2 separate regions of the Homo sapiens genome follow, and region 1 is linked to region 2. The links come from fine-mapping of genetic effects on gene expression. A gene starts in region 2. The other region holds a variant in brackets. All regions are shown on one strand. Distances are from middle to middle. Region 1 has its middle 68 kb from the start of PLPP6. Region 2 holds the start of SLC1A1 (solute carrier family 1 member 1).

Region 1 (2,908 bases), 100 kb after region 2:
TAATATAGTAGCTCTTACGTTGTGTTCTTATCATATCCCCCAAAATAATTAATAAATAAAGAAGGTGAGAGGAAACTTTTGGAGATGATGGATAGGTTTATGGCATAGACTTTGGTGATGGTTTCACAACTCACCAAGTTGTACATGCTAAATATGTACACCTTTAGTATGCCAATCATACCTGAATAAAGTGGTTTAAGAAAAAAAGAATCACTGCTAACACCAAGCACTAACTATGTGCTGAGATTGTACTAAATATTTTACATGCATAGTCTCATGCATTCTTCTTAACACTTCTATTAGGCAGGTCATATTACCATCTGTTTCCCAGTTGAGGAAACTGTGGCTTAGGGAGGTTAAGTACTTTGCCCAAGTTCACAGAGCTGGGACTCACATGATTCCAAGTCTTTTCCTAACTATTAAGATATAATGCTTCAAAATGCCTAAAAAGTAAGAGGAAATGCATGACAGTATCCAATCGTCACCTCTTTACAAGCTTTCTAATCATGACATTTTATTTGATACAACCAAATTTGCTCCTTCAAATTGCTGTTTGTTTTCCCATTCTAGCAAAAATTAATTTTAAATATGTCTAGATTATCTCCCACCTCATCTAGCTGCCCAGCCTCACCTCCTTTATGGTATACAATATCATTGTATCCCTCCCTTATATCACCTTTAAATCTTTCACTCAAACCCCAACTCTCCCCAAAATCCCTTTCTTTTCCAAAACCAGGGATGGGGAGTTGTCAGGATAAAAACTGGAACCCTATTTCTCTTTTCCTTTTCTTGCCAAATTTTGGGGGCTGCTTTTTATTCTTTATACTGTGACTCCATTTCCTCCCCACTCACAAACACCTAATCCCCTACAGTCGGGCTTCCACAACATTCCTGAAACTCCGAGGTCATCAGTGCCCTGCTCATGAAATCCAAAAGGCATTTTCTCAGTCATCAATTTTTACTCTTCTGCAACATATGTCACTGTTGATTAGCTTTATATTCCACTAAGTTATTTTTCCTTGGCTTCCAAGACATTACCAGATTCTGCCCCGCCTGACCGTTTTCCACCACTCTTCCACAACCTTTGTAACCTCCTCCTGCTGCTCCCTTACTGTGGGTCTCATCTCTCCCTGTGCCACACACACAGGGTCCCCTCAAATATTTGTGGAATAAATGAACAAGCTCACATCCTTCTGGTCTTCCTCTCTCCACCAGATACTCCTCCAATATTATGGATTCCACTACCATCTCTATGCAGATGATTAACAAAAATGTGTATCCACAAAGTCTACAGCTGCCCTTGGTTTCTCCTGCCCTGATCTCCAAGCCAAACCTCAGATCCCCACCTCCAACTTCTACTGACCACTTTCTGTTGGCTTTTCCACCATCTTTTTAAACTGAACTTATCCAAAATCAATCTCATCAATCTTTTCTGTAGTCTCTCTTTCCCAGATTGGGAATTG[T/C]GGGTTTTTGTTTTTTGTTTTTTGTTTTTCGGAGTCTCGCTCTGTCACCCAGGCTGGAGTGCAGTGGCGCGAACTCAGCTCACTGCAAGCTCTGCCTCCCGGGTTCATGCCATTCTCCTGCCTCAGCCTCCAGACTAGCTGGGACTACAGGCGCCCGCCAGCATGCCTGGCTAACTTTTTTTGTATTTTTTAGTAGAGACGGGGTTTCACCGTGTTAGCCAGGATGGTCTTGATCTCCTGAACTCATGATCTGCCTGCCTCAGCCTCCCAAAGTGCTGGGATTACAGGTGTGAGCCACCGCGCCCAGCGGGGAATTGTGTTTTTAAAAATCACCATTATTTCCCCTACAATCTAGGATCATAAACATTTCTTCTTGCTTTTGACCCCAAGAGGTTTGAGGTTGCAAGGCAGGTCTATAGAGGTTGGTGCATTTATTTGAATCCGTCTGCTCTGGGATTCAGGTGGGAGCCCCTGAGTGAACAGTGATGCCTCTTTGTGAAGCGAGTGACCCAAGACTTAGCCTCTGTCCAGACATGAATCACTGGACATGGTGTACTCCTGCATTTTCTCTTCCCACGTAATTCTTGAATAAACAACTTGTATTTTGATAATCCTCTAAATTCTATTTACAACCATAAGGCCTTCACGATAAGAACAAGATTCAGAGGGATTAAAAAAATACTAAACAAAATCCCAGACAAGGCCTCCATTCTTCTCAACACCCACCTTGACCCCTAGTAATTCTAAGTGTTCCCTATTCTATCTCCCTGGCCAAAAAGAGACCACAAAAAGAAAAGTCCCTAAAGGATTTCATTTGAGCTCCTATTTTGTTCTCTTAGTCGTTGAGTTCATCTTGCCTCACACATCATGAAGAATATGAATCCACAAAATGAAGGACACTGTGTCCTTATTTCTGCAGGGCAATTATTCTCTCCATCAATACCTCATTCTGCTGACTAAGTAGTTCACCTTCACTTTGTAACAAGCCCAGGCCACCGGACTTAACCACTTCTTCCTTAAAAGGGCCAGGTACCTCCCCCATACACCCACAGGTTTTTAAGCACCCCTAAAATAAGTTGTCTCATGATGTCTTCCCAGCCCTGATGTCTAATCAGCCCTTCTCTTTCCTGTGACTCTCCTACTCAGTTGAGGTTCTATTGCCCTAATTTTCAGACTTCTTCAAAGGCTTTGTCAGAGTCTCCCCACCGCCAGCCTCTACCTACTCCCAAACCATCCTGCACAAGATCATCAGATTAATACTTTGCTTTCTGGCTCCAAAACTCTAACGGCTTCTTATTGTCTACAGCACAAGTTGAAAATACTCGCCTGAATATTTAGGACACTTCAGAAGATACCCCAAAGGACATTTCCTCTTCTCTATATACATATGCTTCATTATACTCTCCCCAGTTGCCTCACTCTCCCAAATCTCTTCTCTACCTGGT
Region 2 (2,876 bases):
GTTAGCCAGGATGGTCTCAATCTCCTGACCTCGTGATCCGCTCGCCTCGGACTCCCAAAGTCCTGAGATTACAGGCAAGAGCCACCGCACCCGGGTCCCCTTCTGACATTTCTTCAGATCTTCCTCGGACACCCAACGACCTTAAAATCCCTCTAACCTTCTTTCTCTCAAAGTTTACTTTCTATAAAGAGCTGATAAACTCATTCATACTAAAGTCTACAGGGTTGTAAATCTTAATCTATTATCGCTTAAAAGATGCTTGTATCAATTTACACCAAAGGGATGAAGCTCTAATTGTGGGGATTTAGTCATCAGAAAATCTAGTAGGGGAAATTCTCCCTACCCACAATCAGAGTAGATTCTACAATAGCAAAAAGGGTTCCAGGCTCACTTAACTTTAGGAACGCTGATAAGAAGACCGCTTACAGCTGCGGAGGTACTGATTTGGTAAAGGGAGGGAAAGAGATTGTATACGTGAGAGTGAAAAAATTGGGTAGAAAAATGGAAGAGCATCAGAAATTCACTTAGCAACACCAAATATATTTGGCACCACTAACCTAGTTTCTCCTGTGTTTGCCTTTCCAATCCGTTGGACCTTAGGGGATGGACCGCCCACTTTCTCCCCAGAGCGGCTCCCGGGTCCGGTTCTCAGTTCTAATCACTGCCCCAAGCCTCCATGCTCCAGGGCCTGTGGTCACAGAGCAAGTCCCAAGGAGCAGAAGTAAAGTTCTAAGAGAAATCACCATCTCCTTGTGCAGGGAACACTCCCAAGCCCAGTGTCCACAGACAAATCACCTCCAGCGACTCGAAGAGGAGAATAATCCCTGTGGGGGCACTGGAGGCTCCGCGTGAAAGTTTCCAAAGCCATGTTCTGCCCCAGGACTCCTTTCTCTCCTCCCAGAAGCTTCAGGCTTTCGCGGCTGCTGGCACATCCCAGCCTGAGTAGCCGAGCAAGAGGGACCCAAGGCAGGATCAGCTTCCCCCGACTTGAAAGGGCACCCGTTCTGCAGGTGCCGGCGCTGGAAATAGCTGGTGTGGAGAACGGAGAGGGAGACGTGCAGGATGAAGTCCGCGCCCAGGAGGGCAGTGGCTCCGCCTCTCTGGGTTAGGGACAGAAGAAAACCCTTAACCCAAAGCCCTAGCATGAGTGAGGCGTGGAAAGCGAGACAGACTCCAGTGGAAGGCTGTGGGGCGGGACTCAGGGTTCCCGGAGAGGCCGCCCCAGCTCCTGCCGCAGCGCTGGGCGCCCTACCACGCCTGCTCCCTAGGGACCCCGGGCGTCCCACGCACGCACCCACCCTCCTTCCCGGGCCTGCCGCTCCTCCCTCCTTCCTCGCTGGTTGGCCCAGGCGCCGCAGAGCGCGGCGGCAGCAGGAGGAGCCGGGCGCGCCTGCCACGCAAAACTACCGGGCTGGCAGGGCGGCGGGCGCGGTGCGCGATCCCGGGTGGCGGCGGCAACGGCGGTGGTGACGGCGGCGACTGCAGCGGCCGGCTCTCACCTCTCCCCTGTGCACCCGCATCTCGCCGCGCCGCCGAGCAGCCAGCAGTCCCCGGGTCGCCCAGCCCACGCGCGCACGGCCGAGCCCAGCGCACAATAGCGGCGACAGCCATGGGGAAACCGGCGAGGAAAGGATGCGAGTGGAAGCGCTTCCTGAAGAATAACTGGGTGTTGCTGTCCACCGTGGCCGCGGTGGTGCTAGGTGAGCGGCGCGGCGGGTGGGCGATGCGCGCACCCTCACGCGCTCTCTGCGCCCAGGCCGCGTGCGGCTGAGGGTGGGCTTGGCGCTGGCGCACTCCATGCAGGGTCCCTCGATGCCCCCTCGGCCTTAGCCTCGGGCCCCCTGCGGGGGCTTTCCCCCAAGCGCTCTAATTACTGCACACCAAGAACAAAGCTCCTCTGGGACTCCCATTTGAGTGCTCCTTGAGCTGCTGGTTCCTGCTCTACCCAAAATGATCAAAGGGGCTTGGGGGTAGAAAGGGAAGCAAGTAGCTCTTGGTTCTGCTCGTTTGAAAACAGGGTTCGATTTTTTTCTTTGTTAATCCCGCACCGTATCTCCCCCTATCACCGCCACCTTCCTCACCCCACACCCCCAGCCTCGCTGCGCGGGCAGAGATTGAGTGTGGATTACAGTTCTCAGTCGAATTGGAAGAGGCACCCTGGCCTCCGGGATGGGCCGGACCCTTAGGGGAGGGAGGCTGAGAACGCTGTCGCCGCTCATCCTGGGCAGTGCGTGGAAAGGTGCCTTCCCACGCGGCGAGCGCCGACTGCCTGCACCCGGGCTCTGAAAAGCTGCCAGATTCGTGCCTGAATTCTGGGATGTGCCACTGTGGCCCGCGGGAGGTCACCGGGGAAGAGAGCTAAGAGAACTCAGCCGTCTCTTCTCCTGCCTTCCTTGCTCTCCACGTTGTTTTTGTATTTAAGATAATGTTTAAGCCATCCTTGCCTGTTTTTAAACAAGGGTGTATTTAAGTGATCCACCCCTCACAGATCACTGGACCAGGTGGATGTCTGAGCCATTGCTCAGAGGTATGAGTTATTCCTATTTAGATTCTGATTTTTTACCAAGGTTGTGTGTTTCTAGCTCCGGCCCGGGGATGCACTTCCTTGGGATTAGCGCCATATCTGTCGCCTTCCCAGTGATAGCTCCTCAGCAGGTGAGGGCTGTTGCACCCTCTGAGGAATGTGGATTCCTCGGCAGGCTCCACCTTCCCCTTGGAAACTGCAGCTGTGTTTGCTGAAAAGGCAAGTGGGGACAGCTTGTTTCCTCCCAACCTCAGGTACCTTCCTCTCCAACTGCTGCTCCTAAATCTCAGAATATATGGTGTTGCTTGCTTCTCCTCCGAACCGCCCCCTCCCCTCAGGGTGGGGATAGGGC

The links. PIP is the estimated chance that this variant, and not a neighbour inherited with it, causes the effect. A credible set is the group of variants that fine-mapping cannot tell apart.
Region 1: its variant is the best candidate, but not a certain one, in a credible set for the expression of SLC1A1 in lung (TOPMed, PIP 0.62).

Annotation. Positions count from the first base shown.
Region 1 is chr9:4,592,740-4,595,647 of GRCh38, forward strand. It overlaps a transcript of SPATA6L not described here. Among named protein-coding and RNA genes, the nearest start is that of PLPP6, 68 kb to the right of the region's middle. The variant T/C (reference allele first, on the strand shown) is at 1,464.
Region 2 is chr9:4,489,071-4,491,946 of GRCh38, forward strand. It overlaps SLC1A1 (solute carrier family 1 member 1), which reads left to right and starts at 1,398. Exons shown (of 12, transcript NM_004170.6): 1 at 1,398-1,700. The coding sequence starts at 1,610. It also overlaps a transcript of GLIS3 not described here. RefSeq lists an enhancer at 996-1,045 and a silencer at 1,196-1,625.